2 separate regions of the Homo sapiens genome follow, and region 2 is linked to region 1. Evidence: fine-mapped expression QTL. Tissue or cell type: tibial nerve. Region 1 holds a variant in brackets; the other region holds the start of a gene. All regions are shown on one strand. Distances are from middle to middle.

Region 1 (6,182 bases):
CCTGGGCGACAGAATGAGACATCATATCAAAAAAAAAACAAAAAAAAAAAAAAAGGAAAATCAAAAAAGCAGATGATAATGGTGGTGTGTTTAGGGGGAATCACTTTAGCTACAGAGGTGAGAGAAGCCAGTATTTAAGCTGAGATCGCCATGCAATGGGGACTCAGCCCCGCAGAGACCTGGAGAAGAGCACCCGAGACTGCAAAGGCCCTGAGGCAGGAAGCGTTTAAGGCATTGGAGCACCAGCCTGGAAGGGTGGAGGGGCTGCAGGGTGGTGGGCATGACAGGGGTCAGTGTGTGGCTGGGTCAGGGGAGGAGAGGACATGGCCGAGGCCTCACCCTGCAGAACACGTGGCTCTTGTTCTATGTGGGGGTAGCACTGGCGATGTGGGCAGGGGAATGACTCGGTTTTAAGCATCTTACCTGGGAACATCTGGTTTTTCAGATGGCTTTCCCGGAGCACACCATCACACAGGGAGCTTCTGTCTGACTCCTATCTGAAGCCCCAGCGCACAGGTTGGGGCCCGGCACATAGGATGGCTTCAGCATAAGATGGCCTGCAGGATCAGGGTCAGCAATGAGGAAAAAGTTACCAATGAGCCTTGAGTGTCCTCCAAGGCTGATTGCAGAAGAGGATGTGGCTGGCTTGGAGAAGACTAGACTGCTCTCTGGGAGGAAGCTTGATGCTGCCAGTATCCCTCCAGCCCAGAAGGGAAGACCAGCTCTTACCACCACAGAGACCAGGGCTTGCAGAGGGAATGCGAGCCGCTGCAAAGGGCTGAACCCTCCTCTTCCTGCCTTAGCCAGTCTCCTGAGCTTCCCAGGCCCTCACATGGGGCCTGAGTGGGCACTCGCCAGGTGTTAGGTCTGACAAAGGTGTGAATGAATGAAGAAATGAATGAGTGATGCTGTCCTACTGGTCCAGGAAGGAAAGGTGCTGGCGTCCCCTGGGTCTGGAAGACCTTCCCCTGCTCTTTGTAAGTTCCTCCTCAGCTGGTGTCCTGTGGTGTCCTGGCTGGAAGGAATGATGGCCAGGAGATATACAGACCATATGGGCGGGGGGCGGGGGCCCTGCCCTGCCTGTTCATCCTTGTCCACTGCCCACAGGGACTGGAGAGGGGCCGCCCACGATGGCTTTCACTCCACACCTCCATATGCTGGGATGCGGGGGTTGGGGGGCTGGACTTTTAGAAAAATCCTGATACTTATTGCTTTTTTTTTTTTTCCTGCTCTGAAACTTTTTCTGGTTACAAAAGTTTGCTGTGGAAATTTTAGAAACAGCTGAGAACAAATGTGCAGGCACAGAGATGCACACACAAAAATGCTCTGTGTCCCATTACCCAGAGATGACCAGCATGAACATTGTGGTGTTTGTCCTTCCAGAACTTCCAAGCACAGTCATGTATGTGTATCTTTTTCAAATACCTTTCTAGTAAACCATTCTAACCTGCTCTTTTAAAGATTTATTTATTTATTTTTATTTTTTAGACAGAGTCTTGCTCTGTCACCAGGCTGGAGTACAATGGTGCGATCTTGGCTCACTGCAACCTCTGCCTCCTGGGTTCAAGTGATTCTCCTGCTTCAGCCTCCCGAGTAGCTGGGACTACAGGCACCCGCCACCACGCCCGGCTAATTCTTGTATTTTTAGTAGAGACAGGGTTTCTCCATGTTGGCCAGGATGATATTGATCTCCTGGCCTCGTGATCCGCCCACCTCAGCCTCCCAAAAACCTGCTTCTTTGACTGAATAGCTTGGGAACATCTTTCTGCATCACTGAATAGTGTTTTGCATCCTTTTTAATGCTGCAGAATATAAATTCCAGTGTTACTTCACCTGTCCCCTTTAGATTGACACTAAAGTTGTTTCTCTCTCTCTCTCTCTTTTTTTTTTTTTTTTTTTTGATACTAAGTCTCGCTGTCACCCAGGCTGGAGTGCAGTGGCATGATCTTGGCTCACTGTAACCTCCACCTCCCAGGTTCAAGCGATTCTCCTGCCTCAGCCTCCCGAGTAGCTGGGATTACAGGCACCCACCACCACACCTGGCTAATTTTTGTATTTTTAGTAGAGACAGGGTTTCACCATGTTACCCAGGCTGATCTCGAACTCCTGACCTCAAGTGATCCACCCGCCTTGGCCTCCCAAAGTGCTGGAATTACAGGTGTGAGCTACCGTGCCCAGCCAAGGATAACAGTTTTTCTCATTGTAGAAAATACATGCCACATAAGACTTCCCGTTTTATCCCTTTTAAAGTTTACAGTTCAGTGGCATTGAGAACATTCCCAATGTTTTGCAACCACCACCACCATCTACTTCTGGAATGTTTCCATCACCCCTTAGCAGTCACTCCTAATTCCCCCTCCCCCAGCCTCTGGTTTCCTGCCTGTTCTGGGCATTTCATAGAGCTGAGTCACTCAACGTGTGGCCCCTGACCCAGCTTCTTTCCCTGGCCATCATGCTGTTAAGGTCCCCCACACTGTGGCCTGTGTCCCGGCTTCATTCCCGTTCGTGCTGAACGACATCCCATTGTATGGGAAGATGGCATTTTGTTGATCTTTGCGTCCACTGA[C/T]GGGTATTCGAGTTGACATTTGGTTCTTGTGAATTTGCTGCTGTGAACACTTGTGTATAGGTTTTTGTGTAGACGTGTGTTTTGAGTTCTTTGGAGTGTTATTCAGCAGTAGGACTGAGGGATGGTATGAGCCATTCCGTTTGAGGTTTTTTTTTGTTTTTTTTTTGTTTTTTTTTTTATGGAGTTTTGCTCTTGTTGCCCAGGCTGGAGTGCGGTGGCACCATCTCCGCTCACTGCAACCTCTGCCTCCCGGCTTCAAGCAATTATCCTGCCTCAGCCTCCCGAGTAGCTGAGATTACAGGCATGCGCCACCACGCTGAGCTAATTTTGCAATTTTAGTAGAGACAGGGTTTCTCCATGTTGGTCAGGCTGGTCTCGAACTCCTAACCTCAGGTGATCCACCTGCCTCAGCCTCCCAAAGTGCTGGGATTACAGGTTTGAGCCACCACGCCCAGCCCTAGTTTGAGTTTTTGAGGAACCTCCGTTCCACAACCTCTCCAGCCCCCATGTGAGCACGCACTGCATGCCCGTGGTCACTCTCTCAGGCTCCAGGCCTGGAGGGCGAGTGACAGATAGGGGTGGGATCCGTGCTTTGCTTGCTTTGCTTTGCACTGCCTTGCACTGCCAAATTGCTCTCCAGAAAGCCTGTCCCGTGCCCACCCAGGTGCGGGCTTGCTTCAGTGCCTGCTGGGCCTCATGTGGGTGATTGGCACCTTGAGGTGTCATGGACCACCCCGGGGGGACCACTGACACATCCTTCCCTCCCTGGGACCTCGTTTCAGTCTCTGGGGGCCCTGGCTGTCCCTGGCACATCTGGAGGTTGCCCCTAGAGTTGGGGGGGCAGCTCAGGGAAAACTTGTCCTTGTGGGGTCAGGACCCCAGCAGGCGGCACTGGCCTGTGCACTGTGGGGGAGGGAAGGCTGGCCTGTAGGGCCCCCACCAGGGAAGCCAGGGCCAGGAAGGGCCCTCTGCCACACAGCCTCTTCCCGAGCAAGCCCTGGTCATGCTAGAACTGTGTCCTTTGTGAATCACTGATGTGGAGGGCTAGGAAGGGCTGGGACGTGGAATGGGGAATGAAGGAGGGAGGGTCCGCAGGCCCTCTGGGTGGTGGCTGAGGGACTGGAGCTGATTTTTTGCCACTGCAGAGTGACATGTGAGAGTCATTTTAGCAGACATTCCCCAAGTGCAGGGGCAAAGAGATGAAGGAGGGCAGTTCGGAATATTCCAGACAGAGGGCATGGGGTTGTTTCTGTGTAGAAAGATGGCAGGGGAAGTCAGGGGTCAGGGAAGAGCCCCAGTGCCTGAGGTCGGTGGGCTCCACGGATGTGACATCTGAGGACCCCAGGGGTGAGGGGATATGCACACCCAGACTCCCATGCCGGGATCCTGAGCACCCACGAACCATGGCTATGGAGGCAGGGAGCCTCCCCAGGGCTGGACCTCCAGGCACAGACGAGCAGAGGAGAGGACGTCTAGGCTGGAGGAGATCAGGAGGAGGCGCAGAGGTGGCCTGTGTGAGGACAGTGAGGGCCAGGCTGGCTGGGGCCATGCTTTGGAGCCTTGAACGCTGGTCTAAGGCTTCCACTGGCAGCTGTTGCAGAGGGTTCTGATCCATCTCTGTCCCCCATGCAGATGGGCTTGCTGAGGAAGGCCAGAGTGCTGGGGTGCTGCCTAGTGAGGGACAAGGAGGGACAGGAGCCGGTGGTGAGGAGCCTGCTGCTGAGAGGTGCCTCTCAGGGGCCGACATTGCCAGGGTCTAGTCTTGGTGGCCTCTGTGCTTGGGGCCAAATGCCCTTGGCCGCCTCTTTCCTTCTCTTTTATGGGTCTCCAGTCCCGCCTGGGACGGAGAGGGTTACTGGAGACACGCTTTGTACTTCAATAGGCACTTTCATCTGCAGCCTTTGGAGGGCTTTGCAAACATGGCTTAATGAAGGGTCCCAGCACCCCAGCCTCCTAAGCACCGTTTTGAGCTGGATGCATGCAGAACAGAGGGATTAAGTGATTTGTCCAGGATTGCACAGCAAAGCTGAGTGGATTCCCCTGCCGTCCCCTGAGGCTCAGGGCTGCGTTGGGCTGTGCCCTCCACCTTCCCTCTCTGCTTGCTGGGTCTTGTCCTTTGGGAGCCCCCGAGCTCTCAGCTGACGGCCTTCTGCCCCTGGAAATCCATGCGTCCCCTTGCTTGCCAGCTGCCAGCCCACGAGCAAGCCGGTCAAGGCGGTCTCTGATTTCGACGGCCGAGGAGGGGACCTTTCAGGAAGGGGTGGCCGTAGGCGAGGGTTGATCGCTGGGCCTGGAATCTGCTCCCACAGGGCCTGTGGGGCCTCACGGGGCTGCTGCTGGCTTCAGCCTCTGGGTGCTGGGCTGGCAGGGGTGAGGGGGCTGAGCAGAGATGCCTGCGTGTGGGGCGGGGCGAGCCCGGCCCCTGTCCTGCTGGGAAATTCCTGACGTTCTTTCTTTGGGTCTGTGAGCTCATGAGCAAGTATGGTGGGTGCATTTTATAAACCGGAAAATAAATCATTCATTGAAATGGAGACAAATGCATTTCCAACCCAAAGTGTCAGGGGTCATCAAGGTCAAGGGCAGGGAGGCAGCCTGGCTGTCCCTGTGAGCTGAGACAGCATGACGTGTGCAGAGTCCTGGCTCACCCGCCACCTCTTCTCTCCAACCCCAGTTCCCCTGGCATTCCAGGCACCCACCTCGCTCCCCTCGTGATGACAGGAGCCTTCAGGTGGTCTCTCCTCCTTGTTCCACAGTGATCTGTTCTCAGTCCCACAGTCAGAAGACCCTTTTACAGCTCAAGTCTCATCAGGCTCCTGCTCAGCTTAAATTCCCCCAATGGCGGCCAGGCGTGGTGGCTCACGCCTGTAATCTCAGCACTTTGGGAGGCCAAGGTGGGCAGATCACGAGGTCAGGAGTTCGAGACCAGCCTGACCAACGTGGTGAAACTGCGTCTCTACTCAAAATACAAAAATTAGCCAGGCATGGTGGCGGGCACCTGTAATCCCAGCTACTCGGGAGCCTGAGGCAGGAGAATCGCTTGAACCAGGGAGGCGGAAGTTGCAGTGAGCCGAGATCATGCCACTGCACTCCAGCCTGGGCGACAGAGCGGGCCTCCGTCTCAAAAAAAAAAAAAAAAAAAAAAGGCCCAGTGGCTCCCACTTCACTCCAAGCAAAGCTCGAGCCTTGCCATGGCCCCCTAGGCCCTTTGCTTCTGCAGCTCCCTCTCTGCTCTCCACCCACCCGCTGCTGCAGCTGCCCTGACCTCCTCTCTCTTCCAGTCCAGTCTCCTGGCCTTTGTCCCCACTGAGTCCTCTGCCTGAGGCACCCTCCCTGGATCCACTTGCAGGCTGCCCTCTCATCGATGCCCAAGGGACACTTTTTCTTCAGCACAGCTTCTCCCGAACACTGGAATTAAAGTGGCAGCCCCTCCCATCCCGCCCCCTCCCTGGCCTTCCCTGCAGCCCTCCCTTTCTTTCTTCTCCATTCTGCCTCTCCCCACCTCCTGAGACACTGTGTCATTTTCTTACTTGTTTTACTTGTCTTCTCTCCCCCACCTCAGCATAAGTGCCGTTGGAGTAGGATGTTTGTTCATTCACTACCACAGCAATAAGCTGTG
Region 2 (5,686 bases), 30 kb after region 1:
ACAAAGGGAGTGGGCCTCTGAGGATGCTAGCCGAGAGCCAAGCCTGGGAGCTCCCTGAACTGGCTGCCCAAGCCTCAGGCGGGCCTTTCCAGACAGAGATGCTCCACGCCATACTACAGGGGATGACATCGGAATCCAATGTCACCTTTTTTTAAAACACAGAATAGCAGCACACTCGTGACAACTTTTGACAAGTTAAAGAAATCCAATGGTAAGATTCTCCACTGTTGCACCAGAAAAGTCAGAGTTGGTTTTTTGTTTTGTCTTTTTTTCCCCCCAGAAAATTAAAAAACACACCCGCAGAACTATAAATAATTTGGTGGCAATATATACACATTTAAATAATTAATTTAAATATCTTACACCTACTCTTGCATTAAACTCTTCATCCGAAGAAAGTGCACCAAGGTGACCCTCGGCACTGCCCTCCCAGGGGCTTCCCGAGGCTGAGGCAAGGGTCCTCTGGAGGGTCACAGCCTGGGGAGGAAGTGGGTGACCTTCATGGTGGGCGACACTCGGTTCCCCTTCTTGGTCTTCCCATTCTTGCTCAGGGCGATGAACATGCCGGGGTACTTGTAGGACTCGTAGGCGTTGTAGTTGTTGGGAAGGAGAATCTCCTTGAACGTGCACTCATCGGTGAAGAAGGGCTGCAGCAAAGCAGGGCAGTGTCAGGGCTGGGGCACCTCTTGGGCAAGGTACCCAGCCTGAAGCCAGGGGTCAGAACCCCCTTCTGTCCCACCCCCCACCCTGGGCTGAGATGTCTCTGCTGAGCAGTTAAGGTGTCAAGACCCACACAGGGTGAGAAGGGGACATGGCCAGCCCACAACAGCTGGTGCTCTCACCACCTGCCCTGCACCTAGCAGCCAGAGAATTCATTCCCTCCGTGTCCAGCCTCAAGCCCGCAGTTCCAACACTGAGACCTACCCCTCTGGACTAGAGAAGGGAAGGGCTCTCAATAGCGCCCTTTCCTCGGTCTGGGAGGGGCCCACTCAGGGATGGCAGGAACCTCATTGTTCCTGCCTTGGGGCTGCTTCCTTTGTCTGGGGAGGCCTGCCGGTCCCGTGACCTGGTGACCCTGCCACCCCTCCAAGACCCAGGCACAGGTGGGGCTGGAGAAGCCACGAGCCTGCTAGCCATGTCCGCTGTTCCCAACTAGGTGCCTAGCCAGACCCCTGCGGTACTCACCGAGCCATAGAGCTTGCCCTTGCTGCTCATGGCCACGAAGAACCGGCTGGCCACGCCGAAGATGCTCACCACGCCCCGCTCCACGGGCGAGAGCTCCAGCAGGCCTGGGGGCGGGGCGCAGGTCATTGCGGGGCAGGTGATCCCTGGCCCACTCCGCCCCTCGGCTTGTTCGCCTCCGGGGACCCTATTTCTGGGGTGGGGTTGGGGATAAAGGGCCAGGGTTCCCGGCGCAGCCGCCCCCAAGGGCCTCCAGAGCCCAAGCTGCCCTCTAGGGCCTCCGGAGCCCAAGCCTGCGCTAGCTCAGATTAGCTTGCCTGTGTAGGGGACCCCCGGCGGCCGCACCCAGTCCCGGACCTTCAGACGCGAGCCCGACCCCAGCGGTTCCCCAGCCTGGGCCAGGCCGGGGCGCGTGTCTCGGGCCCCCTGTGGCTGCACCGCGCGCCCTGTGCCCACGGGCGAAGGCGCTGGAATTCGGCGCTCGGAGCCCGAGTTTCTGAAGGCGGGAGGCGGCGCCCGACCTCAGGGGTTGCGCTGGGCTGCCGGAGCCAAGAGTGTCTGCGTCCCCAGCCCCGCGTCAGAAGGGACCGGAGCCCGAGTCCGCCCCGGTTCCCGGGGCCCCCGAGCAGGTGCCCGCCGAGGGTCTCAGAGTGTGACTGAGCGGGTTGGCCCGGCGGCCGTTGCCCCCCGCCCCCGCCCCTTCGCGCCTGGCCGCGCCACTCACTGTCGCGGGTGTCCGCGTGCGCGCCGCCGATGCGGCCGTCGGGGAGCGCCTGGAGGTGGAAGCCGATGCCCACGTTGCAGTAGAGCCGCCGCAGCCGCTTGATGCCCAGCAGGTAGTCGCCGGCGCCGCTCTGGACGGCCGCCTCCTTGGGCTGCGCTGCCACCGGCAGGCGCGCCAACGAGAGCGCCACCAGGCTCTCCCAGCGGCGCTCCAGCTCGGCCTCCAGCGTGCCGTTGGGTGCAGTGGGTGCGGCGGCGCCCCCTCGGCCCGCCCAGGGCGCCAGCAAGGCCAGCAGGACCGCCGGGAGCAGCGCTACCGCGGCCGTCCCGGGCCCCGACATCCCGGCCCGAGGGCCGTGCGTCGGTCAGGCGGTCAGTGCGCCCGGGAAGCTGGGGGGCAGAGCTGCGCCTGTGGCGTCCCGCGGGAGCGCACGGCCGACCTCGGGCAGGAGTGCGCAACCGAGGAGGTGCGGGAGGCAAGCGACGGGGCCCCCGGGCGCCGGGCTCTACCCCGGCTGCATGGAGCGGCGAGCCGGGCGGAAAGCGCGCGGCTGGAGCTGGGACTCTGAGGAGCAGTGCGCGCCTCCCTGAGCGCCAGGCCCGCCCGAGGCCGAGCCGCTATATATATAGCCCGGCGCCCCCTCCTACTCGCCCGCTCCCGCGGGGGGCCGTTCGCGTTCTCCTGGGCGCCCGGGGCGCTGTGGCGTTCGCGGCTGGTCGCAGGCCGCCTGCCAATCAGGGCCGGGGGAAGGGAGGAGGCTGGGGACTAGCGCCGCGAGTGCCACCTGGAGGGACCCCGGCCCCCACCCTTGGCTCCGCCCGGCCCACGGACCTGTTCGTCCCGCCCCTTGGCGGCTCCTACACTTCTGCTTTTCAGCCAGTTTTGCCTCTTGCACTTTGTCCCTGCCTGTCCCCGTCCCCGTCTCCCTCTCTGCTCCGGCCGCCTTGGCGCAGCCCTAACTCGGGCATCCGAAGCTCCTAGTGGGCGCAGAAGCCAGCGGCTGCTGCCTGCCCTTCGCCTTTCGGAGGCTCACGGGAACTTGGTTCCTTTGCTGGGGCCTTGAGGACCGGCCTGGGAAGGAGGGGTGGATAAGAGCAGTAAGCGACACCGGGGCCTGGCTGGGCAAGGGAGGACCCTTTGGCTACAGGCGGGAGGGAGGCCACCCCCACCCCCTAGGTCTTGGCCCCACAGGCTTGGCGCGTTTCTGGGCTGGAGTTCTGAATACCTGGTGGAGGTCCACCTGAGCCAAAGGGCAAGGTGGCAGAGATGCACCCAGGGAGGCCTGGTCCTGCACCCCCTACACACACACCCTTCCGTGAAAGGACAGGTAGCAGGGCATAGGGCCAGAGGGGATATTCAGCATCCCCTGCTCCTTTGATTCCACAGCAGAAATATCCATGTACCATAGCCAGAGCCCTCAATCTAGCAGGGACCCAGGCCAGGCCTCTGGAAGCCTCCCCTCTCTCACTCATGGTTCTACCTCCCACTGTGCCCATTATGGCCTGATGGGGACTGTCCTAGCTAGATGCAGGCCCACCTAGGTGTGAAAACCCCTGTTCTTTGTGGTCCCTGAGGAGCCTGCCTGGCCCTTCCTGCAGGCCCGCCTAGCCACAGCTGCAGGGGGCTTGGTGCCTACCCCATCTCTCATACCACCAGCACCTGTGACCAGAGATGTCCCCAGGCCACCGCAGCCTCCTCCACCTCCACCGCATCCCCACAGGGAGATTCCTGGGACCCCTTCAGAACCCTGCTGGGGCTTATTCGTGCCCCTGGAGGGGACCTGGGAGGCTTGAGGGCTCTTCTCTGAGGTGCAGAAAGGGGGGCACTTGGGGGTCATCAAGTGGCTTTGGCAGGACCGGAACCTCAGCTCCGCACCCCTTGAGAGGATCTTTGTTCCTCCTTGGGCCTGCAGCCTGCTTGGGCAGCGCCACCCAGACCTGGACCTTCCTGGGCTGCAGCTCACAGCTTCGAGATGCAACCCGGCTGCCTCTGGGTCCTGGGGTCCCCCAGATGAGCCTGCAGATCTGGTGCCAAATAGACATCGTTGGCCAGGGTGCAGGGTGCAGGGTGCAGGGGACCTAGAACCCATCCCTCACTTGCTGTGTTGTCTTTCCATCTCTAGGTCCCTGACTCCCCATTTGCAAAATGACATGGGAGGTGGGCTTTCCTCCCTCAGCCTGGGGCCAACCGAACACACCCTCTGGGGAAGTGAGACCCAGGCCTGGAGACCCACCTGTGCCAGCTGACCTGAGCAGAGGGACTCTGATGTCTTCCCCCGGCTTTTGATAGGATGAGGCTCCTTTCTTCCCAGGACTCCCACAGCAAGCTCAATTTAGGGCTTCCCAAGGACCCCTCCCTGTCTCTCCTATTTGCTGTGAGTTCAGCAAAGGACGCTGCAGGCAGCTGATATATCTCCCAGAACTGCAGGCCCACCCACACAGGATAGGTGCTTGTGGTGACTGGGGACTGACAGCCAGCAGGGCTTTTGGGAGCTGGGAATTCCCAGCAGAACTGATCTGGAATCTGGCTTCCACTTTGCTCCGGGTGCTCCCTGAGCACACTCTCAACCTCCGCAGGCCCTGGCCTCCTCAGCTGTGCAATGGAGGCAACAAAAGCACAGGTAAGGAAGAATTGCGGATGAAGGATGCACCAGGAAGCACTCACTTATCTGCATCTGACCCCTTTCCGTGCCCCTGGCCCTTGACCTGGCTTCCCACCTGCTTCCTTTCTGCTCCTGTGTTCCCGCCATGCTGACCGCGTCATCTCTCCCCTTCCCACTGGATGACCCCCGGCCCCAGATCTTCCTGCCAATGACTTATCCCATTCAGGTTTGCCTGAATGGAGAAGCCACTCCATTGGAGTAGCCACTCGGGGATGCCTTCTGGATCCCCTGCCCAGTCCTTCTGGTTGGAGCTTCTTTGAGCTCTTAAGAGAACCTTCTGCACTTGTTAGCTGACCCTCCACCGCATTTAGATTGTCATCTCCATGGAGCAAGCCCGGATTTGTGTTGTTGCCAGTTGTACCTCCAGTGCTGGGCACATAGTAGGTGCTCAATAGCTGTTTGTGAGTAAATGGCTGGCTAGGTACACTAGGAGCTCATCCATCAGCAATCCTCACTGCAAGCTGCCCTGCCCAATCTGCCACTGTGCCCCGGGGCAGACAAACAGAGGTACCTGCAAAGGCCTCAGGCAGAGCTGCCCCTATGGGAAGGTCTGCATTGCCTTTTTTTTTCTTTATGTGAAAGAAATAGTTGGACCAAGGTGACTAAATCTTTTCCAGATCTGGTTACTTCTCAGCAGAGAGACAAGGGGACCTATATATAATTTTTTTTTTTTTTTTGAGATAGTATCTTGCTCCATTGCCCAGGCTAAAGTGCAGTGGCTCTATCATAGCTCTACAGCCTCAAACTTCCAGGCTTAAGCAATCCTCCAGCCTCAGTCTCCTGAGTAGCTGGGACTACACACTCAGCTAATTTTTTGTTTTCTTTTTTAGTAGAGACGAGGTCTCGCTGTATTGCCCGGGCTGGACTCAAACTTTTGACCTCAAGCAATCCTCCCGCCTCAGCCTCCCAAAGTGCTGGGATTACAGGCATGAGCCACTGCACCTGGCCAGGTGATCTAGAAACAGGACCCTCACTTAGCTTGGACCCAAAGCCCTTCTGCCATGCTTTACCCCAGGACGCCCGCTTTGCCAAGTCCTGGGGTTCGAGGAAGGCTTGGGGCCATGTTGGGCTTCCGGTTGGGTTCAAGTTTAGGCTGTCTCCCTGTTAGTTGTATAACC

Alleles and levels. Alleles are on the strand shown, and positions count from the first base shown. SD is a standard deviation of normalised expression in the study named.
For the expression in tibial nerve of the gene that starts at base 2,503 in region 2, allele C in region 1 goes with a higher level than allele T (small effect, 0.31 SD a copy in GTEx).

What was found. PIP is the estimated chance that this variant, and not a neighbour inherited with it, causes the effect.
Region 2: FGF4 starts here. The variant in region 1 is fine-mapped to the expression of FGF4 in tibial nerve (GTEx, PIP 0.95).

Annotation. Positions count from the first base shown.
Region 1 is chr11:69,742,278-69,748,459 of GRCh38, forward strand. No RefSeq gene overlaps it. Among named protein-coding and RNA genes, the nearest start is that of FGF4, 30 kb to the right of the region's middle. The variant C/T (reference allele first, on the strand shown) is at 2,567.
Region 2 is chr11:69,772,839-69,778,524 of GRCh38, forward strand. FGF4 (fibroblast growth factor 4) reads right to left here and starts at 2,503. Exons shown (of 3, transcript NM_002007.4): 1 at 1,907-2,503; 2 at 1,186-1,289; 3 at 1-647. The coding sequence starts at 2,246. The coding sequence ends at 471. RefSeq lists enhancers at 477-1,402, 3,252-4,175 and promoters at 2,392-3,504, 2,392-2,787.